Linked DNA regions of Homo sapiens: regions 2 and 3 are each linked to region 1. The links come from fine-mapping of genetic effects on gene expression. A gene starts in region 1. Each other region holds a variant in brackets. All regions are shown on one strand. Distances are between the middles of the regions.

Region 1 (8,771 bases):
AGCCTGACCAACATGGCGAAACCCCGTCTCTACTAAAAATATAAAAATTAACTGGGCGTGGTAGTGGGCGCCTGTAATCCTAGCTACTCAGGAGGCTGAGGCAAGAGAATTGCTTGAACCCGGGAGGTGGAGGTTGCAGTGAGCCAAGATTGCGCCATTGCACTCCAGCCTGGGCGACAGAGCGAGACTCTATCTCAAAAAATAAAACAAAAAACAAGAAACAAAACCTCAGATTCATGAGTCGGACTGAGGCATAAATGACTATTCCTCTACCTGCCCTGTACCCCATATAAATCGTGTATTCTGTGAAAGGCTGACCAAAGACTCAAAAGAAAGCAATCATTTGTCTCTACCTGTGACCATCTTACACATATTCATTTATATCTCACGTCTCCCTAAAATGTATAAAAGCAAGCTGTGCCCCAACCACCTTGGGTACATGTTGTCAGGACCTCCTGAGGCTGTGTCACAGACATGTCCTTAACCTTGGCAAAATAAGCTTTCTAACTGATTGACACCTGTCTCAAATACTTCGGATTCTCAGTCCTCTGTGGAGCTTCTGCCAGCCCTTCCAGGTGGCTGCCTTTCCTGGCCACTCAGAGAGCCCACACTCTCTGGCTTCACTCCCCAACCCACAACCCCTCCCTTCCACCCACCCCTGAGCTGACTGAGTTGGGAAGGTCTGGCTCTGTGACCACCCCTGACCTGAGTCCTCCAAGGTCCCCTAGATCTGGTACAGGGCTGAGTTGGAGGAGGAAAGTACAGATTTGGAACACATAAGATGGTGCCTGGAGATGGCCAAGTAAGAATTACCTGGAGAACAGCCTAGGCTAAAAGGGGGAAGCAGCATTACCAGTCCCTATTATCCATCAGGGCATGCTGAGGGTAAAACAGAAGATGAGTAAGGCCCCTAACTGGCAGCCAGTTTCCTTCTCTCAGCCAGGAATCTGCTCATCAAGAAAACTGTGCTGTCCAGGTGCGGTGGCTCAGGCCTATAATCCCAGCGCTTTGGGAGTCTGAGGCGGGTAGATCACTTGAGGTCAGGAGTTTGAGAACAGCCTGGCCAACATAGCAAAATCCTGTCTCTACTGAAAATACAAAAAATTAGCCAGGGCCGGGCACGGTGGCTCACGCCTGTAATCCCAGCACTTTGGGAGGCCGAAGCGGGCGGATCATGAGGTCAGGAGATCAAGACCATCCTGGCTAACACGGTGAAACCCCGTCTCTACTAAAAAAATACAAAAAAACTAGCCGGGCGTGGTGGCGGGTGCCTGTATTTCCAGCTACTCGGGAGGCTGAGGCAGGAGAATGGCCTGAACCCAGGAGACGGAGCTTGCAGTGAGCTGAGATTGCGCCACTGCACTCCAGCCTGGGTGACAGAACGAGACTCCGTCTCAAAAAAAAAAAAAAAGGCCAGGCAAGATAGTGCACACCGGTAATCCCAGCTACTCAGGAGGCTGAGGCAGGAGATCGCTTGAACTCCTTTTGACTCCGTTTCAAAAAAAAAAAAAATACAAAATTTAGCCAGGTGCGGTGTTGCGCACCTGTAGTCCCAGCTACTCGGGAGGCTGAGGCAGGGGAAGCCCTTGAACCCGGGAGGTGGAGGTTGCAGTGAGTCAAGATCATGCCACTACACTCTAGCCTGGGCGACAGAGAAAGACTCCGTCTCAAAAGAAAATTAAACGTGTGCCATGACATGCTGGGGACTCTAAAAGACTCCATCCACATGTCCCTCTACCAGCCACACCCACTCTGGTTCAAACACCAGCCTCCCCTAAGGGCGGCGTCACCTGCCACTCCCAGAGCCTAGACTCCACCTCACTCACGTGCTCAAAGCCCGGTAGTGGCTTCCCAACCCTCTCAGAACAAAACCCAGCCTCCTTATCCGCACCTTCTCTATCTAAGCCTTCCAAGTTCCTCTTCCCCGCCTTTCTCATCCTTCCCAGCACTCAAGAGACAGCCTTCAAAACCACTTCTAGATAAAGAGCAGCCCTGCTTTCCCGTCCCATCACTCTGTTATTATTTGCACACCATTACCTGTATCTAGAGCAACATCGTTCACTCATTTATTTGTACCCTGTAGCCTCCTTGTCCCCACTGCCTAGGACGGGGCCCGACACGCAGCAGGCACTCAGTGCACAGGTGCTGAATGAATAAATAAAATGAATGAAAATAAAGCGAATGCCAGGGAAGCCGAGGATTTTGTCCCCAGGCGGCTTCTGTAAAATTCTTTCATTTTTTTTTTCCCCCCAAACCACGTACCCGAGGGTCGCGCCAGCCCGACCCTGCGGCACCCCCACTCCCCACTCCGCGCGGGACAGGCCTCGGCAGCCGCAGCGTCTCACCCGGTCTTCGCGGCCACGTGGGGAAAGGTGGGGCGCGCGGTTGTCACCCAGGGAGCCGCCTCTAGCCCCTTCCGGCCGCCGTACGCGCGCAGGCGCTGTGGCGCCCCTAGGCTTGGCCTCCCAGAGACTCGCGGACGCTCACGATAACCAAGGACGACCGCGAACCAAGGTAAAGCCAACGAGGCCACCTCGTGCGCGACGGAGGCGTCTTTGCCGCCCCTTCCGGGACGCTCACGGTGGTCGCCGCCCCCAGCAGGGAAATGTTTTGCCTCCAGAGCGTCCGCCCAGAAGAAGCGGACAGCGCGCTTGCGCAAGAGAGCCGGGCCGCGGCGGCCCGCGCCTGCGCACCAGGACTCGGCGGCGGCTTGCGCCTGCGCGGCGCGGCGCTGCGGAGACCGTTGGTTCATTTGCATGTCCCCGCCTCGCGCGGCGGCGGCGGCGGGTGAGGAGCCTGAGGCGGCGGCGGGGGTGGCTCCGCGCGCGGTGGTCTCGGGGTGAGGCCCGGGCCCTGGCGTCGTCGGTGGGTGGCTCCCGGGGTGGGAAGCTCGGGCTCGGCCTTGGGGGCCCGCCCCGGGCTCCGTGATGGCGTCGCAGGCTCGGCCCTCTGGCTGCGGCGGCGGCCGCGTCCCCGCCGGGTTGGCCTGGGTGGCCGGCTGCGGCCTCCCGGGCCCGGCGCCCCCATTTCCTCGCCCGCAGAGGCCGGGAGACGGCGGGCCGCGTCCACAAAGGCTCATTGGTTCAGTCGTTCATTCATTCCTCCCGAACTCGGAGCGGCCCCCGCTCGGGAGGAGATAACGGCGCCCAGCGCTGCATCGGGCCCTTGCCCTCTTTAGAACCGGTTCAGCCCCCACACCAGCCCCTTTACTGGCTGCCCATTCCATAGGTGGGGAAACGGAAGCACAGAAAGCTTAGAATCGTGTGATTTGAACCTGGGTCACCTGACCCGGGAACCCTGCCCTTTGCCAGCAGAGAACAAGGGGGCGCCCCGGGAAAAGGGCTGAAGGATGGGACTGGGGGAGGCGGGTGGGGGAGGCGGTGATCGTGATGGGAAATGGACCCTACGGGTTGTCTCTTGAAGTTGGAGGTTTTGCGAAGCGGGATATCTTGATGGTTAAGGATGCAGCCCCTGGACCCCAAAATGTTGCTTAATCTTTTTACTCATTCTTCGGGGCTTTGGATGCACGAATACCCTTTTTGCCAGGTTCAAATCTGGGCTGTCTGGTCTTGAATGGGTCGTTGAGTCTGTCTCCCTTTGCCTCCTCACCCTAATGTCATTCATAACAGGACCCGCCTCTTCAGTGGGTGGTTGGGAGATCGCGCAAGGACCCAGCGCAGAATGAACTGTCACTAGTTCATTGTCATTGGTTGGGGGTCCCGCCACTCACTGTCAAGAGGCTTCTTTTAGAAGGGAAGGAAGTTCTCAGAGCCTCTGTGCCCTGCTGAGTCTGTGAATGGGAAAAGAGTGATCCTGGGCCAGGCGCAGTGGCTCACGGCCTGGAATCCCAGCACTTTGGGAGGCCGAAGCGGGCGAATCACTTGAGGTCAGGAATTCAAGACCAGCCTGGCCAACATGGTGAAACTCCATCTCTACCTAAAATATAAAAATTAGTCGGATGCGGTGGCGGACTCCTGTAATCCCAGCTACTCAGGAGGCTGAGGCAGGAGAATTGCTTGAGTCCAGGAGGCGGAGGTTGCAGTTAGCCGAGATCATGCCACTGCACTCCAGCCTGGGCAACAGGGAGAGTCTCAAAAAAAGGAAGAAAAAAAAAAAAAAGATTGATCTCTTCTTTCCTAACCACGATTTGCGAGGGTTGTGGTCCCACCCTTCCTACTCTGTTATGCTCAGTTATGTGTGTTGGTTGACACCTTCCTCCAGCAGATAGAACTGCTTTCACAGAGCTGCTTTTAATGGATTCCAAGGAGATGGGCCCAGAGAAGGTTTGTCTTGCTCCTTTTCAGCCAGCACACACCTGTGAACTTCGTGAGGGCAGAGACCCCCTTAAAAGAGTCCAGACAAGGTGGGCAGATTGCTTGAGGTCAGGAGTTCGAGACCAGCCTGGCCAACCTAGCAAAACCCTGTCTCTACTTAAAAAAAAAAAAAAAAAAGATAAATAAAAAGGGTCCAGCTTGCCTCTGAAGTACCATGCGAGGATTATGGATTACTGCCTCCTTACTTCGAGGATTAAGTGAAATAGAGCAGGTTCTGTGAGCACGCATTTTTTTTTTCTTTGAGACAGTCTCGCTCTGTCCCCCAGTCTGGAGGGCAGTGGCATGATCTCGGCTCACTGCAACCTCTGTCTCCCTGGTTCAAGCAATTCCCATGCCTCAGCCTCCTGAGTATTTGGGATTACAGGCACGTGCCACCATGCCTGGTGAAATTTTTTTTTTTTTTTTTTTGAGACGGAGTCTCACTCTGTTACCCATGCTGGAGTGCAGTGGCATGATCTCGGCCCACTGCAACCTCCGCCTCCTGGGTTCAAGCAATTCTCTTGCCACAGCCTCCCAAGTAGCTGGGATTAAAGGCAGGCACCACCATGCCCGGCTAATTTTTGTATTTTTAGTAGAGACAGGGTTTTGCCATGTTGGCCAGGCTGGTCTCCAACTCCTGACTTTAAATGATCCGCTCACCTCAGCCTCCCAAAGTCCTGGGATTACAGGTGTGAGCCACCACACCCAGCCTGAATTTTTTGTATTTTAGTTTCATCATGTTGCCTAGGCTGGTCTCGAACTCCTGAGCTCAGGTGATCCGCCCACCTCGACCTCCCAAAGTGCCAGGATTACAGGTATGAGCCACCGCGCCCAGCTCCAAGTTGTTGCTCTTAGTGTATTTTTTTCTCTCTCACCATAGGGCAAAATAACATGGCAGCCAGACGAATTACACAGGAGACTTTTGATGCTGTATTACAAGAAAAAGCCAAACGATATCACATGGATGCCAGTGGTGAGGCTGTAAGCGAAACTCTTCAGTTTAAAGCTCAAGGTAAAATAAAGTGTTGTTGTTGTAGTTGTTGTTTTGGTAGGGGTGTATCTTAGGGCCAAGGCAGGAAGATTACAATACCTTGGGCAAATAATACCAGTCCTCTGATCCTTAGTTTCCTTATTTAGGAGGAGGTAAAGGTTTTTATTTTGGTTTGGTTTCTTTTTTGTGATAGGGTCTTACTCTCTCCCCCAGGCTGAAGTGCAGTGGCGCAGTTTTAGCTCACTGCACCCTTGAACTCCTAGGCTCAAGCCATCCTTCCATCTCTGCCTCCCAGAGTGCTGGGATTATAGGCATGAGCCACTGCACTTGGTCAGGGGATAATGTTTTGATCTGTCAGTCATCATTATGTAGTTATCTGGAGCTTCTCACTGGATATCCTCCCCGACCCACCTCAAGACAGTTTTGTTTATTGTTTGTTTGTTTGTTTGTTTGTTTTGAGACGGAGTTTCACTCTTGTCTCCCAGGCTGGAGGGCAATGGAGGGATCTTGGCTCACTGCAACCTCCGCCTCTTGGCTCACTGCAACCTCCGCCTCCTGGGTTCAAGCGATTCTCCTGCCTCAGCCTCCTGAGTAGCTGGGATTACGGGCATGCACCACCACGCCCAGCTAATTTTTCTATTTGTAGTAGAGATGAGGTTTTACCATGTTGGCCAGGCTGGTCTCGAACTCCCGACCTCAGGTGATCCACTTGCCTTGGCCTCCCAAGATGCTGGGATTACAGGCATGAGCCACCGAGCCCAGCCCAGTTTTGTTTTTTGGTGTTTTTTATGTTTTTGTTTTTTTTGTTTTTTGTTTTTTTTAATAGATATGGAGTCTTGCTATGTTTTCAGGCTGGTCTGCAACTCCTGGGCTCAAGTGATCCTCCCACCTCTGCCTTCAGCATGTTGCGATTACAGGCGTGAGCCACTGCTCCCAGCCCCAAGACAGGTTCTTGGATCCATTTCCTGGCTCCATCCCTGTCACCGCTGCCCAGGTTTAAGCTCTACTAGTTCTTTTTTTTTTTTATTTGAGACAGAGTCTTGTACTGTCGCCCAGGCTGGAGTGCAGTGACGTGATTTTGGCTCACTGCGGCCTGTGCCTCCTGGATTCAAGCGATTCTCCTGCCTCAGCCTCCCGAGTAGCTGAGATTACAGGTGCCTGCCACCATGCCCGGCTAATTTTTTTGTATTTATTTTAGTAAAGATGGGGTTTCACTATGTTGGTCAGGCTGGTTTTGAACTCCTGACCTTGTGATCTGCCCGCCTCGGCCTCCCAGAGTGCTGGGAGGATCACAAGGTCAGGAGATCGAGACCATCCTGTGAATGGTGAAACCCCGTCTTTACTAAAAATCAAAAAAAAAAAAAAATTAGCCAGGTGTGGTTGTGGGTGCCTGTGGTCCCAGCTACTTGGGAGGCTGAGGCGGGATAATGCCGTGAACCCGGGAGGTGGAGCCTGCAGTGAGCCAAGATTGCGCTACTGCACTCCAGCCTGGGCGACAGAGCGAGACTCCATCTCAAAAAAAAAAAAAGAAAAAAAATGGCCGGGCGCAGTGGCTCAAGCCTGTAATCCTAGCACTTTGGGAGGCCGAGGCGGGCGGATCACAAGGTCAGGAGATCGAGACCATCCTGGCTAACACGGTGAAACCCTGTCTCTACTAAAAATATTAGCCGGGCGTGGTGGCGGGCGCCTGTAGTCCCAGCTACTCAGGAGGCTGAGGCAGGAGAATGGCGTGAACCCAGGAGGCGGAGGTTGCAGCGAGCCAAGGTTGTGCCACTGCACTCCAGCCTGGGTGACAGAGCAAGACTCCGTCTCAAAAAAAAAAAAATTTATCTGGGCATGGTGGCATGCGCCTATGGCCCTGGCTACTTGGGAGGCTGAGGCAGGAAGTTCGCTTGTGCCCAGGAAGTCGAGGCTGCAGTAAGCTGTGTTTGTGCCATTATACTCCAGCCTGGGCCAAAGAGTGAGACCCTGTCTCAAAAAAAGACGGCCAGGTGCAGTGGCTTACACATGTAATCTCAGCACTTTGGGAGGCCAAGGTGGGCAGATCACCTGAGGTCAGGAGTTTGAGACCAGTCTGGCCAACATGGTGAAACCCCGTGTCTACTAAAAATACAAAAATGTGGCAGGCCCCTATAATCCCAGCTACCCAGGAGGCTGAGACAGAAGAATAGCTTGAACCCAGGAGGTGGAGGTTGCAGTGAGCCGAGATCGCACCACTGCGCTCCAGCGTGGGTGACAGAACGAGACTCCGTCTCAAAAAAAAAAGACAGATTAGGGGGCCGTGGGTGGGAGAGGACTAGAAACCTAGCAGTATGCTAGGTGATTCTGGAACATTTCTGTGTTGCAAAGCAGTCTATCGTTTAGCCTTTCTCTGTTTCTCTGCTCCACTCTGAACTTTTCATCTCCTCATAAAGGGTATGAGAAAATTCTCTTGAGTAGAATCCAGCCATCACTCTCTGTCACTAATGTTCCCTCCCTAATCATGCCATCAATACCAATCATCAATACCTGGGTTATCACAGTGGATTTCTTGCAGGAACATCCACGTCTGTGCTCATCTCCTTTAATCTGTTCCCTGTGCAGCAGCCAGTGAGATCATCCCTCTGCTTAGAACTCTTCACTAGCCTTCTGTCTCTCCCAGAGTAAATTCCAGAGTACCACTGAGGGCCCGACTTGGATCTGGTACTCCTTCTCCATTTGTGTCTCTTATATTAGTGGTTCCCTAACTTTGTAGCACGTTAGCGTCACCTGGGGGCCTTTTAAAAACCCTGATGCCCAGGTCATCCCCTTATTTAATTAAGTAAGAATGTCTGGGGAGGTGGTCCCTGGGGCTCCAGTAGCAGAGTTTGGGAGCTGCCTTCCTACCACTTGGCCTTTCATTCCCTGTGTTCCCTTCTGTCTACATTGGCCCCCTACTGGTCCCACCTCAGGGTCTTGTCCTCATTCCCCCTCTGCCTGGAAGGCTTCCCTTTGTAACTGTACGGTCTGGCTCCTCATGCCAGGCCACTGCTGCTAGATAAAGTGTCAGAGCTATGCAGCGTGACACGGTGGCTCACGCCTGTAATCCCAGCACTTTGGGAGGCCGAGGTGGGCGGATCACAAGGTCAGGAGTTCCAGACCAGCCTGGCCAATGTGGTGAAACCCTGTCTCTACTAAAAATACAAAAGTTAGCCGGGCATGGTGGCGGGTGCCTGTATTCCCAGCTACTCAGGAGGCGGAGGCAGGAGAATCGCTTGAACCTGGGAGGTGGAGGTTGCGGTGAGCCAAGATCGCACCCTTGCACTCCGGCACTCCAGCCTGGGCAACAGAGCGAGACTCTGTCTCAAAAAAAAAAAGAAAAAAAAAAGTGTCAGAGCTACCCTCCTTGACTAGCCTGTCTCAAAATGTCATTGCCTCCTCAGGTTCCCACGTGCTTGATTTGTCTTCTTGGTACTTAACTTGCATCTGATATATTTTTGTTTATTGTC
Region 2 (5,256 bases), 100 kb before region 1:
GAGTCGGCGGGAGTTGTACCCAGGGGGACTAGAAGCCCCTAAGCGTTCTGGGGATTCTGCCCTCGAGACCTTTTAGGGGTCTGGGATCCTTTTGAGGGGTCGTGGTCCCACAGAGGGGACTGGGGACCCCAGCACATTTGGAACCTGGTTAAGGCGGTGTGGGGTCCTGTTGGGGGTCCACTCTGGGGACGGGGGTCCTGCAGGAGCGTGGGGGCCGCGCCGACAGGATCCATCGGGGGTCCCTGCTATATCGGGGTGTGTGGAACGGGCAGGGGAGGCCGTGGGAGGTGGACTCAGGAGGTCTGGTTGGCCTCAGGGCGGGCAAGGTTCTCAGAGTGGGAGACAGGAAAGTTGGAACCTTCAGGTCTCACGCGGCTCTGGGTCCAACCTATTGAGTGTGTTCTTAAAACTTAGCCCAGCCCCTGGGGGTCAGGCTGGTGCAGGGAGATGGGGGACTCCCACAACCCTGACGGGACCGGCCTGGGCAGAGAGAGGGACGTGGAACTGGAGGGTCTCTGCCTGGGACCATCCCCGAGGAGGGGCGCTGGAGATGGCCCTGAAGGAAGGGCACTGATGGCCGGAATTATTGAAAGTGGGGCGTCGTCCCAGGCGGAGGTGCAGGACGCCGTAGGAGATGAAGGCACAGGCTCCCGGGAATGAGGAGGGAGGCTGCATTGATTTTATCAGGGTTCTTGAGTTCGAGAATCGTAAATCCAGTGAAGGGAAAAGAAGGAGCTGATGGAAGACTCCAGAAAATTCTTGCAGATGTCTGCAGAGCCCTGACCCTGAGACAGGAGGCTGGGTGGAGGGCAGGGCCATCAGAACATCCCTGGACAGACCTCTGGGAGCCTTAGGTGGAGAGATGCACCCCTCCACCACCTTTTCCCTTGGGGGGTTTTGGGGGGTGGTGGGGTCATTGATGAAGAGCCCAAAGGTCCAGGAAGACCTCTGAGACTCCAGTGGTTGGGTGCAGGGAGGGCTGAGGAGAGAGCTGAGCTGTGGGGAGGTGGAGGGATGGTCTCTAGCTATGCCTGCAGGGTGCAGAACCAAGTTGGGGGCTGACTGTGAGACTGGGAAGGGCCTGAACCACCTGGAAGGGTATGGGATGATGGGTGAGTGCTAGGGTCTCCCAGGAGAGCCTGGAGGAGGCTACTGGTTGAGCTCAGCAGAGAGGTCTGGGCTGGAGGTGTCACCGTGCTGAGGTTTTGATGGGCTGGCTGATTGGGTGGTTAAAACCCTGGCAGGTCACAGGAGAGAGGTCGGAGAGAGAGGAGAAAAACAGACTGGGGGGTGGGAGGGCAGGGTCCTAGGGGAAGGGTGGGGCTTCAACAGCCCTGACCCACTGGCTTGCAGGGGCCCATGGGCTGGCACTCATGGTCCCTAAGTGCCAGCCAGCCAGTCTGCACTAGGGTCCCGGGGAGGGCGAGCAATGAGGACTTAGAGATGAGAAAGATGCCGCCACCAACCTCATTACTGAAAAAAGATTTCTGGTCTCAGTTTACAAGTCACAGGTACAGAGAAAATGTCCTATTAGTCTGTTATTTTATGTATTTTTATTTTATTATTATTATTATTTTGTTTTGAGACAGAGTCCCACTCTGTTGCCCAGGCTGGAGTGCAGTGGCACAATCTCGGCTCACTGCAACCTCTGCCTCCCAGGTTCAAGCAATTCTGCTGCCTCAGCCTCCCAAGTAGCTGGGATTACAGGCGCCCACCACCATGTCTGGCTAATTTTTGTATTTTTAGTAGAGACAAGGTTTCATCATGTTGGCCAGGCTCGTCTCAAACTCCTGACCTCAAGTGATCAGCCCGCCTCAGCCTCCCAACATGCTGGGATTACAGGCACGAGCCACCGCACCTGGCCTCAGCAGTCATTTTGAATTACCGTGCTAGGCCCGGTACCCATCACATTAGGGTTTTTCCGACTAAATTTAGCTTATTTATGCCTGATTAAAGGATTATTTTCATAATTAATTTTACTATTAAATAAACTTTATTTCATTTTGATGATAATTCCAGAACACTAGTAGACAGCTCTCCTGAGCACATAATTTTACATAATTATGTAATTACTGGCAGCAAATGGGTATTTACTGCATTCAAGCAGGAAAACCCAGCTTCACCACAGACTGATTCTTCTAAAACGTTTAAAAATAAGTATATGAAAATGTGTTCTGAATTAAGAACTGGGTGAGAAAATTCCTAATTAAAAAAAAAAAAAGCCTTAGCTGGGTGTGTTGGCACATGACTGTAGTCCTAACTACTCGGTAGGTTGAGGTGGGAGGATCACTTGAGCCCAGGAGTTTGAGACCAGCCTGGACAACATAGCAAGACCCCATCTCTAAAAATAAAAATAAAAATAGGCCGGACACAGTGGCTCACGCCTGTAATCCCAACCGTTTGGGAGGCCAAGGCAGGAGGATTGCTTGAGCCTAGGAGTTCAAGACCAGCCTGGCAACATGGAGAAACCCTGTCTCTACAAAATAGACAAAAATTAGTTGGGTATGGTGGCGAGTGCCTGTAATCCCAGCTACTAGGGAGGCTGATGTGGGAGAATCACTTGAGCCTGGGAGGTTGAGGCTGCAGTGAGCACCCCAGCATGCCACTGCACTCCAGCCTGGGTGACAGAGCAAGACCCTGTTCTCCCCACCACTCCCTTGCCAAAAAAATAAATAAATAAATAAAAATAAATAAGCTCACCCCACTCAGACATGTAGGTCTTCACACCAAAACAGGAGGTGGCCAGGAGCATAGACGCCCTTTCAAGGAGGTTAATTACAAAGGGAAGAAGAGGGAGGAGGGTGATGGAACCATCAGGGATCACTTAAGGTGGGAGACACTTAGGGGAAGGAGCTACCAGGTGAAGGAGAAAGCTAGAAGCTCAACCGAGACGCAGTGGCTCCCTAGGTGACAGTGTGGGGTGCAGAAGGCGGTGGGAGCCGCTTTCACTGAGTGTGGCGGGCTCGTGGTTAGGGGCTGGAAGGTGGTGGTGAGGAATACAGGAGACTACATAGGAAGCACCCATTTCCAGATGAGAAAACTGAGACTCCGGGAAATTAATATTATACCTGAATCCATAGCGGAGGCGGGAGGCAAATCCCATGGTCTCCACTGCCCTACACTCCCGCTAGGTGGTGAGGGTGGGTGTTGATCTCTGACGTGGGAGGGCAGGGCCATGCTAGGTGAGTCCAGACTCACCCCAGGACTCTCCCCTAAGAAGCCGCTAGAGCCTAAGAGGCTCGCCCTTCCCCCATCCAGCCTGACTTCTCTATAAA[T/C]AGCCTGGGTTCCTAGGGAGGGAGGGAACTTGTGACCCTCTGGCAGGTGCTGCCAGTCATGTCCCCTCCCCCCAGGCGGTCCTCGGAGTACAGCTGGTGGTGACCCTGCTCACTGCCACCCTCATGCACAGGCTGGCGCCACACTGCTCCTTCGCGCGCTGGCTGCTCTGTAACGGCAGGTGAGCCCCGCCCCGGCGGTGGGAGGGGCCCGCGGAGTCACGCCCCCTTCTGGCTCCCCACGCCCCGCCTCACAAATTGCAAAGCCTTGATTTTGGTTGGTGGGTGGTGGGGGGAAAAACGTTGTTGAGGTGTAATTGAAGTACAACAAACTGCATATATTTGTTTTTTCTTTTTCTTTTTAGAGACAGGGTCTCACTCTGTTACCCAGTCTGGAGTGCAGTGACCTGATCATAGCTCACTGCAACCTCAACCTCCTGGGCTCAAGTGACCCTCCTGCCTCAATCTCCTGAGTAGCTGGGACTACAGGTGTGCGCCACCATGCCCAGACAATTTTTAAATTTTTAATAGAGATGGGGTCTTGCTAAGTTGCCCAGGCTGGTCTCAAACTCCTAGGCTCAAGCGATCCTACCACTTTGGCCTCCCAAAGTGCTGGGATTACAGGCGTGAGTTCCCATGCCTGACACAAACTGTATATATTTGAAGTACACAGTTGGACTAGTTTTGACAGGTGTACACATGTGTGGAACCATCACCACACTCCCCACGTCCCTCACTCTTCCTGCCTCCCTGTAACCCAGCCTTCCTTCCACCCCTGCATCTGCTAGAGCTCGCCTGCTCTGGTTTTTGTCCTTGCGTGGGTCTGTGATGCTTTCTGAGAATCTGGTGGCAACTGAATTCTCTCCTGAGAAAAATGTATGTGACAAAAACAAAGGCAAAAAAAAAAAACACGTCAGAGATGATAGCTCAGGCCCATAATCCCAACACTGGGGGAAGCCAAGGTGGGAGGATCACTTGACCAGCCTGGGCAACATGGCAAGACCCTGTCTCTACAAAATATTTTAAAAATTAGCCAGGTATGGTGGCTCACGCCTGTGATCCCAGCTAATCAGGAGTCTGAGGCAGGAGGATCGTTTGAGCCCAGAAAGTCAAATCTGCAGTGAGCTGAGATGGTGCCACTGTACTCCAGCCTGGGCGACAGACCAAGGCCTTCTCTCAAAAACAAAAAACAAAGGCCGGGCGAGGTGGCTCACACCTGTAATCCCAGCCCTTTGGGAGGCCGGGGCGGGTGGATCACTTGAGGTCAGGAGTTTGAGACCAGCCTGGCCAACATAGTGAAACCCTGTCTCTGGTAAAAATACAAAAATTAGCTGGGCATGGTGGCGCATGCCTGTAGTCCCAGCTCCTCGGGAGGCTGAGGCAGGAGAATCACTTGAACCGGGGAAGTGGAGGTTGCAGTGAGCCAAGATCATGCCACTGCACTCCAGTCTGGGTGACAGAGGGAGACTCTGTCTCAAAAAGAAAATGAAAAAGAAAAGAAAAGTTGCACACACTGGCTTCCCCAGGAGAGTTAGCCAGCAGATTCAGGGGTATCCAAGCCCCCGGAGCCCACTCAGCCTAGATCTGTTGGTCTCACGATTTCCCCAGAATTTCCCCATGCTGTACCCTCACCTACCTCCCAGTGTTCCCCTGGCCTAGGCTACCCTCTAACTAGAATCCCTGGATTTGGGGTTCACTGCCTCAACCTCCCAACCCCACGCCTGAGCTTCCCTGACTGCCCGTCCTTGCTCTCAGTTTGTTCCGATACAAGCACCCGTCTGAGGAGGAGCTTCGGGCCCTGGCGGGGAAGCCGAGGCCCAGAGGCAGGAAAGAGCGGTGAGTGACCTGGGCCCCAGCCCCAGCCTTGGGAGGGTGGCTCCTCCCCAGGAACGGCCTCACCCCTGCTCAGGGGGCTCTGGGCTCAGGGACACAGGACCGGCCCACCCATACTTCCAGGCGCTGATCTGGGCACAGGTGAACCGGG
Region 3 (10,638 bases), 37 kb after region 1:
CTTGCAGATGACGTTGGCACAAGCCTGGAGGAGCTGAGGAGAAACAGTGTAGAGATCTGAGAAGGGCACAGCCTCGGTAGAGAGGCTGGGGCAGCAAGAGGCCTTTGTGGCAGCAGAGGAATCCGGGGGGTGGTCACACAGGACCTCAACAGATGTTAACGCTGTGGCCCTTTCTCAGGGAAGGGAGGGTACCTCTGGGACCTGTGGTGGATGTGGCCACTAGGGTGGAGAGCAGCCTGTGGGCGGGAACCAGGAGGAGGCTCAAACTTAAGACAGTTGGACCAGGGCATGAGGAGCAATGAGAAGGGGAGAAGATGGAGTGGGTGACACCTGCTTGTGGGCTGGGTGTGCAAAAGCCAGGAGTCCAGATGACCCCAGGGTTGTCAGCTTGGGCAGAAGAGGGACAGAACTGCCATTCACTGACCTGGAGCCAGGTTATGGAAAGGGGGCAGGTACACTCCAGATGGCCTGGGGGACACAGTGCTGGGGGCAAGCAGGGTCACCTGGGACACATGTGGAGAGACTTCACCAGTCCTTCATGGTCAGGGAGGAGGGCGGGGAGCCAGGCGAGATCGCTCTGCTGGTGTCAGGCAGTGCCATGTTGCTTCCAACCCCTTCCGAGTGACCTAGGTCAGTCTGACCCCAATTATGGCAGGAAGGAGGGACCTTCCCGAGTCCAGAGCTCATAGTCCTTACTGATGTGCCAGGTTTTAGGCTGAGCTGGCATCTGGTGCCCCTTGGTGTGGCCTGGATAAGGGCACGGCCAGATGAGGGCACAGCAGGACCTTGGTGTCAGGCACAGCTGTACTCTAGCTCAGCCCTGCCACCGAGTAGTTTTGTAACCTTGGCGTGTAACCCCTGAGCCACGGATTTGTCTGTAAAATGGGATGGCCACACTTACCCAGCAGGTAGGAGGTACAGTGAGGATTAAACTGAACGCGGTTCCTGGTGGGTGTCCTGCACATGCTGCTGTCTCCTTGGGGCTCTGCACCTGTCCTCCTGTCTGCCAGTGACTGTGGGTGGAAGGGAGGCCGTGGTGGCTGCAGCTTTCCTCTGCAAACCTCCACCTCGCCCACAGGGCTTGGCTTTCCTCCAGCTGTCCAGGAAACCACCATCATGATTGTTAAACACAGATTTGAACATTCACGAAGAAACTTCCAGGCTGAGCCAAACCCTCTTCCTCCCACTGCACCTCCAAGCAGCCTTCCTGAAAGGGAAAAGAGTACAGACCTGCCCTCTGGGGACCCCTGTGCCCTGCCATGACCAGCCTTTCCCCTTCCTTCCCTACCCGTCATCCCAGGGCCCAGGTCGTGCACAGCTCCCAGAAGGGCCTGACGGATGCCCCGTTTCTCATCTCAGCCGGTGGGTTCTGTCACCTCTTTTCTCCAGGCCACTTTCTCATGGCAAGGGGCCCCCCAGTGTAGCAGGTCCTGTCTGGTGTCCCCTGGTTTGCAGGGGTGTCTCTTCACTGTTTGTGCCCCTCTTCCTGTCCCAGCCCATAGCATAGCTCCTCCCTTCATACCTCCCCTCCTTAACTGCCCTGCAGAGACACTTCTGCCCACACCGCCTCACCAAGACCACCTCATGCCATTATGGAGGGGCCGCCTGCATCCAGTAACTCACGCACACACACAAGATACACACATGTGCACGCATATGCACACACACATGCATACACACACGCACACACACATGCATACACACACACAGCTACTTTATATAATACCCTCGGAGATGCCTCTGAAGAGAACAAAGGGAATTTCCCTCCGCCTTTGAAGGTCCAAGTCTAAGCCTGTTGAAATGAACTGACAATAAGAAGATTAACAGGATAAAAAAAGGTGTGCGGTGGCTTACACCTGTAATCCCGGGACTTTGGAAGGCCAAGGCAGGGGGATCACTTGAGCCCGGGAGTTCAAGACTGCAGTGAGCCATGATGGAGCCACTGCACTCCAGCCTGGGTGACAGAGCAAGATCCTGTCTTGAAACAAAAAAGTTATACATATTTATTCACGTGCATAAGCACAGGAGCCATATAAAACATTATGAAAACTCAAAGAAGGGCCAGGTGGTTGAAGCTGAAATACCTCTTTGTAGGGGAGAGGGCAGATGGGAGGCTGTAGGTAACTTTAGAGGGGAAGCAGATGATTTTAGGAGAGATGAATGGAGGCAGGCATCATCTTGTGAATGATCCTCATTGAGAATTGAATGGGACTAGAGAACAGCCAGTGGTCTGGGCTCTAGGTGTGGTGTTTAATGTTCCATCTCTTCTTGTGTGATAGGAGTTTTCAACTCTGGTTAATGACATTTCAGGGAAGGGATCCAAGGCCCTTGTGTTCTTCTTTGGCAAGTCCAGTTTCTAGGTAGATAGGGAACTTGAAGAAAACAGCTTCCTCCTGTGCTTTGGGAGGGACCTTGAGGCTGCTACTTTAGTCCCACCTGTCAAAGTGCTATAATTCGGGGTATCGCTTTCTTTCTTTCTTTCTTTTTTTTTTTTTTTTTTTTTGAGACGGAGTCTCCCTTTGTCGCCAAGGCTGGAGTGCAATGGCATGATCTCAACTCACTGCAACCTCTGCCTCCCAGGTTCAAGGGATTCTCCTGCCTCAGCCTCCAGAGTAGCTGGGATTACAGGGGCGTGCCACCACACCTGGCTAATTTTTGTATTTTTAGTAGAGATGGGGATTCACCATGTTGGTCAGGCTGGTCTCAAACTCCTGACATCGTGATCCACGCACCTTGGCCTCCCAAAGTGCTGGGACTACAGGCGTGAGCCACCGCGCCCAGCCTTAGGGTATCCGTTTCTGACCCCCTACATCTTGCTGCATGTTGAGTTCTCAGCACCTCTCCAGGTTGTTTTGTCCCTTTCTAGGGTGAGAACACTGAGGCCCCAGGAGCTCCAGAGGCCCAGGCCTTCCTTATGGGAGCACTTGCTCTCTCCTCCCTCCCTCCCTCCTGACCTGAGGCCCTGCTCTCTCCCTTCTCCCTTTCCTCTCCCAGCCCCTGGCTCCCCCAGGCTCAGCCTTTTGTGCCTTGTCTCCAAGCTCCTTTGTCTCTGGAGTGCCTCCCACATGCACCCCTAACGTTAGGGAAGCTGATTCCTGGGCACCTCAATGCAGATGGCAAGGGGGGGATTTGTCTTTTGGTTGAATTATACCTCGTGAGGCCTGCATGACATCATGGGGCAGGTTGCTAAGCTGATGAGGGCTGACTGCCCAAAGACCTGAGCTCACAGCACTCAGCATGCCCTTCTCACCCTGCTTCCCATGCCCAGGGTCATCTAACCCTCTCCCAGCCACTCCCACCTGTCCCCTGCTCAGACCCCCAGCACCAGCCCCCGTGATCCTCCTCAGCACCTTCCTCCCTCCCTCTCAAGAGCACATGAACCCTCACAGCCTCCCCAGGTCGTTCAGTAAATGCCTTAAATAAATACATCAGCCAGGCGCAGTGGCTCATGCCTGTAATCCCAGCACTTTGTGAGGCTGAGGCGGGCAGATCAGCTGAGGTCAGGAGTTTGATCAAGACCAGCATGGTTAACATGGCGAAACCCCGTCTCTACTAAAAATACAAAAATAGGTGGGCGTGGTGGCACACGCCTGTAATCTCAGCTACTCGGGAGGCTGAAGCAGGAGAATCGCTTGAACCCAGGAGGCGGAGGTTACAATGAGTTGAGATTGCATCACTGCACTCCAGCCTGGGCAACAGAGCAAGACTCCGTCTTAAAAAAAAAAAAACATCAAAAGCTGGGTGCAGTGGCACATACCTATAGTTCCAGTTAATGGGGAGACTGAGGTGGGAGGATCACTTAAAGCCGGGAATCCGAGACCAGCCTGGGCAACATAGCAAGACTCTATATTTAAAAAAAACACACACAAGTTTTGTATTTTGTTTCTTTTTTTAGACAGTCTCATTGTGTTGCCCAGGCTGGAATGCAGTGGCACGGTCTCCGCTCACTGCAACCTCTGCCTCCCAGGTTCAGGCGATTCTCATGCCTCCGCCTCACAAGTAGCTGGGATTACAGGTGCCTGCCACCATGCCTGGCTAATTTTTGTATTTTAGTAGAGACGGGGTTTTGCCACGTTGGCCAGGCTGGTCTGGAACTCCTGACCTCCAGTGATCCACCCACCTCGGCCTCCCAAACTGCTGAGATTACAGGCATGAGCCACCACGCCCAGCCCACCCACACAAGTTGACTCGTGAAGAGCCAAGGAATACATGGCAAGGTCTTGGACTGCCCAGCTGGGCTCTGTCACACAGCAGTGTGTCATGAATATTCATGAGTGAATAGAAATTCCTTCTGCTACAGCCCTGCAGGCTCCTCCTCCAGAGGCCCCAGGGCCCTGTCTGTCTCCAGATCTCCATCTAGTGGCCCAGAGATTGCTGCACTTCCCCACCACCCACAGGAGCAATCAACAGCTGTACTAGCTCTCAGTGAGGTCTGCTCTGTGCTAGACACAGACCCCAATGTCCAAGTAGAACTCAGTCCTGAGGACAGACAGACAATGCAGCCAGGGAGTGAATGAAGCACTCGGGGAGGGGTATGTTGGGGTGGTTCAGGGAGGGTGCTGCCAGCCAGTTCTCACCCACTGTCTGGCCCCCATCCTGCCTGCAGGCCTGTGCCCTGGTGCCCCCCACTCTTCCCTGGGCTGCGCCCTGTGGTCATCACAGGGCCACCCTTCTTTATCCAGGGTTCCGCTGAGGGCCTTCCTACTGACTCCTTGACCCCGGGACTGGCCATTCCCTTACCCAGTTTTCCTCACAGTCTTGGCACCAGGGTTATAGTGGTAGCTGAGAGGCACGACTGACCTCAGGCCAGTGACCTCTGACTTAGAAGTTCCATCCCACCCAGGGATGTTGCAGAGAACTGGGGAAGTGACTGGAGCTTGAGCCTGAGCATCTGGGGAGTCAGGAGGGCATTTGGGGGTGAGGGGCTCCAGGCATAGCCTAGGACAGACCCTTGATCCAGGCATCTCCCTGTGGCCCACATGCCTGGACTCTCCTCTCTCCTCAGAAACCCAAGGACTTGGACTTCGCCCAGCAGAAGCTGACCGATAAGAACCTGGGCTTCCAGATGCTGCAGAAGATGGGCTGGAAGGAGGGCCATGGCCTGGGCTCCCTCGGAAAGGGCATCAGGGAGCCGGTCAGCGTGTACGCAGCAGGCAGCCTGGGGTGGGAGTGGGTGGGGCCTCAGTCCTTCCACCTGCAGCCTGCCGCTTGGCTCCTTCACAGCCAAGATGGCTTACAGCTGGCAGTTGATTTTTGTTTTTTAAACAGAAGGCATCTTCAGATGAGAAGCTGATCATTTACATGTGCAGGTGTTTACAGGGCTCCTTTCTGTCCTGGTGTAGATTTTTTAACCAGCTTGTTGGCCCTGGTCATTTTGGCCACATTTGTGACCATCATAAAAGCTAAGTGGTATTTCTGTGTAGTTTCCGTCTGGAACTGCTTTCCCATTCCCGGGAACCCATAGCCGGGCCAGCCAGGGTCCCGAACACAGGCCCAAAGTTTATTAAACCC[C/T]GATCATAACCTCCAGCAGGCATTTCATTTAATACTGAGCTTAGTTCCTGCTGGGTAAGGCATTCCGAGGTAACCAGGGCCCTCTGGGCACCCCCTCAAAAGCCAGCTCTTCGAGGGTGAGTACTCCTTGTTTCTACTGTGAGTCGCGTCTTGATTTTCCCTTTCTTTGATGTCTCAGTGTGTGTCCCAAACACCTGCATCTCATGGACTGTTTGTGCCCATGCCCAGTTCCTGGCATGCCAGGCCCTGGGCTCAGGTGCACAACTGACTCTCTTTTTCACTCCCTAGGGGAACCCCCTCGGAAGGGGAAGGGTTGGGTGCTGACGGGCAGGAGCACAAAGAAGACACATTCGATGTGTTCCGACAGAGGATGATGCAGATGTACAGACACAAGCGGGCCAACAAATAGGTATGTTCACAGGCCAGTGTGTAAGGCCGTCTGCCCTCGCTGGCGTGCTGGTATGCAGAGAAATTTCCCCCAACAAAGTTGATGTTCCCTGCTCCCCCAAAAATGCCACACACAAAAAAAATCACAAAATTCTGTGAGGGAAACAAAAGGGTCTATGGATGTGGATATGCCCCATTCTTACCTTCCAGGTTTGCTGAAGGAGCAAACCTCACACTGGCCAAGGGCAGATGCGCATGGCCTGCCTGGTGCCCCGGCTGTGAGCCCCTCAAGGCCTCCAGGCCAGCCTCCGTGGATGTGCGTGTGGAAATAGGCCACGCCTGTCTCTTCTCTTGCTCAAGTTTTCTCTCACAGATGACAGCCACCTACCACATAACATGACCAGCAAACGGACTGTTCCTAGTCCAGAGGGCCTTGCCATCATGCAAGTGGAAGGGCGACTGTGACAGCCACTGCCACAGAGGATGGCAGTTGGCTGTGTCCCTTTGTGAGGGTCTTCAAATCCTTTTCCTTCTGCAGGGCCTTGGGCCTGTAAATATCCTCATCTTTCTATTCTTTTTTTTTTTTAGTTGCCCCCTCACCTAATTTCCACCTCAGTTTTGAACAAAATCGTTCTCTTCCTGAATAGATCAAAACCACTGATGTGAAAGATAAGCCTTGAAGCAGCAATTGCCCTTAAAACATCATCCCTGCCCTGGATCGGCCTGGAGCCAGTGCCCAAGTACGGTTTGGTGTGTACATGAAAACAAACGTCTCTGCAGTCTCTGGGGCGGAGGTTTCGCTGGCTTTTCTTTCTCTCAAAGAAAAAAACATGCACCATTTTCAATGTGCTTTTGCCTCTCCTCTCTGTTCACATGCTTTTAGCAGCAAGTCCCCTCCAAATCTGTCTTGGTTCCCCTTCAGAAGGTGGCGCTGCCCCCGAAAGGCACCTCAGCCTGTGAGTGCTGAGGAACCAGCTCCTCTGGCTGATTTTCCAGTTGGACTGGCCATTGCTCTCCAGAAGTGCTCTGTTAGCAAACGTGATGTGGAAACGATCACAGATGGTGTTTTCTCGTTGTTCGCCAGAATTTATACGGGGGAGACAAATTCCCGGTAATTACCAAGTCTGCACTCGGGTACCAAAGCTCTGAAGCTCTCTGAACAGTTGCCATACTTGAGTTGATGAATGTGTTATTCATGGTGTCTCATCTCATCAATGCATCTTGAGAGACTTAATGAAATTTTAGCAACAGTATAGAATAGCTCTATCGGGTGGGGAGTAATCATTAAACAGATGAAATCGGCCCCAGATTTACATGTCTCTTTAGAATCCACAGTGTAAGCAAACTACAGTTACAAAGGGATGGGGGTTGTAAACCCTCTGAGACTCTGCACTTTTCGCACGTATGGCATCGTCAAGTGCTGTCTTATTACAGCCTTTGTAAGGAGAGGCAGGCTCCTCCTGGGGTGGGCTCTGCAGCTGCTCTATTTCCAGGCATGTGATCGCCCCCGCTCTCCAGATTCCCCAGCACTCTGCTGCGTGTAACTCCACTCAATTCTCCACTCATCCTTCCTTGTGAAGCAGGATCGTTGAAGTTTTAAGTATGGGCAAAAATCTGGAAAACTTAGGATCCCTCTGACACCCCAGGATTAGGGGACACAGCAGTGGCTAGGGCATCAGCCACAGAACTGAGCGGGAAATGCCACTTGTATTGGCTGTAAAGAAATCCTGGCTTTGGGCCAGGCACAGTGGCTCAAGCCTGTAATCCCAGCACTTTAGGAGGTTGAGGCGGATGGATCACCTGAGGTCAGGAGTTTGAGACCAGCCTGGCCAACATGGTGTAACCCCGTCTCTACTAAAAATACAAAAAAATTAGCCAGGCGTGGTAGCGGGCACCTGTAATCCCAGCTACTCAGGAGGCTGAGGCAGGAGAATCACTTGAACCGGGGAGGCAGAGGTTGCAGTGAGCTGAGATCATGCCACTCCACTCCAGCCTGGGCGACAGAGCAAGACTCCATCTCCAAAAAAAAAAAAAAAAAAGGCCGGCACGGTGACTCACGCCTATAATTCCAGCACTTTGGGAGGCCGAGGCAGGTGGATCACGAGGTCAAGAGATCGAGACCATCCTGGCCAACATGGTGAAACCCTGTCTCTACTAAAAATGCAAAAAATTAGCTGGGCGTGGTGGCGGGCGCTTGTAGTCCCAGCTACTCAGGAGGCTGAGGCAGGAGAATCACTTGAACCCGGGAGGCGGAGGTTGCAGTGAGCCGAGATTGTGCCACCGCACTCCAGCCTGGCAACAGAGCGAGACTCTGTCTCAAAAAAAAAAAAGGAAATCCTGGCTTTCTTTAAGCCACAGACTTCCTAGGCTGTGGTCCCAGCTCCTTGTCTGCCTGGTCCCTGTCACCTTGCAGTGCCACCACCCCCAGGGGCTCTGCTTGCTTCCAGTGGCTTCTGTAGCTTTGGCAACTGGCAGATCTTTATGGCAGTAGAGGTGCCAGCATGGAGGATGGAGTTTGGGTTTATAACCCAACCCTCGAACGAACCAGCCTGTGGGGGCCTGGAGTGGAGCTGGTTTTGGGGAGTCACAGGTGCGGGGGGTTCATCTTCTCCTTTCTCCTTCTCCTTTCCTGACCCCTCCGACAGCTTCCATGTTGGCCATGGGTCAGGTGAATGGATGGAGCTCCAAGCGGGGCTCAGCCCATTGACCCGAGCGAGGCGCACACACCTGCAGCGTGGATCAAGCGCACTCTCTCCAGCATCGCCCTGACCATTCCATGTGCTTTGTCCTAGCATGTTCATTCTTGACTTTCTCCACTTCATTTTATTAAAAAGTTAAATGCTTTAGGAATCTGTGGCGTGTGGCCACTGACCGCCCCCCACCTCCTGCCGCTCCTCCAAGTTTGAGCTGAGATGGTTCTGTGAGTCCTTGGCAGGGGTCAAAGGGCACATCTCCTTGAACCTAGAAAGCCCCCTACACTCTCAGAGGACACCTCTCCTGTGGATTCAGCGCTGGGGCAGTGAAGGTGTCGGGAGCCAGCAGAGCATGGTGCGTGCTGCCAGCTGCCGGCCAGCCGGGATAGAGGAGATGCCACTGGCCCTCCGTGCCCCCAGCCCCTCCCTCTTAACCGAGGCTGTCCTTGCTCTCTGCAGAGGCCGCTCTGCAGGATCCTCGTGTCGCGCGTGATGTGTGGTGGCACAGCCGTGTCAAAGTCACAGTGTCTTTTCTGTCGTTCTAGTTCCAGGGTCACCCCCGAGAGGACAACAGGCATCTGGAAGTGCTCTCTCGCCACTCTGGGTGCTTTACTGTCTCTGGCTTGTTTCCATCACTGGAAATCACTTAGAGAATTGTAGTGTTTTTGGTCCTTGATAAAGCCTAGAAGACATTTGTGATGTTACAAAATGGAAGTTTTCTTTTGTTTCTGTTTTTTAAGATCTAAGAAGTTGTGAATGTTGTTAATCATTTAGCCGTTGCAATAAATGTAGAGGAAATGCAGTGTGCTGGGGTCTCCATGGCTGTGTTTTTAAAATCAGATCAGACACCAGCGCACGCAGATGGGAGTGCAGTGTAGAACCAGATGATGGCTGCCTCCCAGGACGTGCCCTCCGCCGGCGTGGTGCTCCTCCCTCGGGCCCCTCCTCACTGGCTTGCCCCACCTGAGGGACCTTGTGTCACTGTCACCAGGAAAGCTTGGAAGATGCCAGAGAGCAGGAAGGGACCAAGCACCCACCAGAGGGAGGGCAATTCCCTTCTGGGGAGGCTGGGGAGGGTAATCGGTACCGCCAAGTACAGAAGCTGCCTTTGAGGGGTGTCAGGGCAGTGGGAGCTGTGCCCCTGCTGCCTACGACTCACCTGTCCCCACAGGGCTTTGCCCCATCATCCCAGGGCTGGGGTTCCAGCTGCCAGAGTAAAACCAGAGCCTGCCTGGGCCACCCTCTGACTGCAGAGCTGCCTCTCTGTCATCTTCACACTCCCTGCTGTCCCTGGGTGCTGCCAGCCTGCCCATGGTTCCTCTGTCAACAGCCCCTTGGCCCTCCAGGTGAGGAGGGGCGTGCAGAGGGCACAGCAGAGACCAAGGCAGCACCCAGGGGGCCTGCAGGGGCCTCTGCCTGACCAGGGTGAGGAGGGGAGGAGCCAGACTGCAGGGAGGGGGAAGGCACTGTGCCCAGGGCAGGTGATGCTCATGTAGAAAGGTCCCTGTGGGCAGCTTAGCGGGAGCCTTGAGACAGAGCCCTTAGGAAGCTGAGGCAGGACCCCCAGCCTCACTTCTACCGTGTCCCGGGGGAAGCTATTGCCAGCCAAGACCCTCACCCTGCCTTCATCTTAGCGATGTCTAACCGCTAGCTTCAGTGGCACTCCCTGAGAAAGGCCGGAGCCTGCAGGGAAAATGTGGGGCTCACCTGCAGGGGGTGAGGAACCACCAGGAATTTCTCTTCAGTAGTGGAACCCTTCTTCCCCTAGTTCCTCTTAATATCACCCTAAGGCCGGTCAGGGTGTCTTAGGAGGACAGGAGGAGTGGTGTCCAGCCCAGGATGCCTGTCCTGGCGTTGACCCAGGCAGGTCACTTGATCTCAGGCCTCAGTTTCCCCTCTACAGACTGGGAAGGATCTCATTTGGAAGGTAAAATCTCCCCTGCTGCCTTGTACTAGGTTGGTGCAAAAGTAATGGCAAAACCTTCAATTACTTTTCCACCAACCTAATAATTTAGGACTAAGTGGAACCACAAGATCCCTGTCATGG

Evidence for each region.
Region 2: its variant is fine-mapped to the expression of SUGP2 in skeletal muscle (GTEx, PIP above 0.99).
Region 3: its variant is fine-mapped to the expression of SUGP2 in whole blood (TOPMed, PIP 0.91).

Annotation. Positions count from the first base shown.
Region 1 is chr19:19,027,505-19,036,275 of GRCh38, reverse strand. It overlaps SUGP2 (SURP and G-patch domain containing 2), which reads left to right and starts at 2,759. Exons shown (of 11, transcript NM_001017392.5): 1 at 2,759-2,839; 2 at 5,194-5,325. The coding sequence starts at 5,205. It overlaps ARMC6 (armadillo repeat containing 6), which reads right to left and starts at 2,673. Exons shown (of 9, transcript NM_001199196.2): 1 at 2,346-2,673; 2 at 2,038-2,145. The coding sequence starts at 2,066. RefSeq lists silencers at 2,670-3,099, 3,520-3,599 and an enhancer at 3,526-4,027.
Region 2 is chr19:19,132,982-19,138,237 of GRCh38, reverse strand. It overlaps TMEM161A (transmembrane protein 161A), which reads left to right. Exons shown (of 12, transcript NM_017814.3): 2 at 3,351-3,454; 3 at 5,028-5,108. Among named protein-coding and RNA genes, the nearest start is that of TMEM161A, 2.9 kb to the left of the region's middle. RefSeq lists enhancers at 1-32, 1-378. The variant T/C (reference allele first, on the strand shown) is at 3,276.
Region 3 is chr19:18,989,648-19,000,285 of GRCh38, reverse strand. It overlaps SUGP2 (SURP and G-patch domain containing 2), which reads left to right. Exons shown (of 11, transcript NM_001017392.5): 9 at 5,006-5,142; 10 at 5,800-5,920; 11 at 6,546-9,393. The coding sequence ends at 5,920. Among named protein-coding and RNA genes, the nearest start is that of SUGP2, 39 kb to the left of the region's middle. RefSeq lists an enhancer at 9,899-10,399. The variant C/T (reference allele first, on the strand shown) is at 5,512.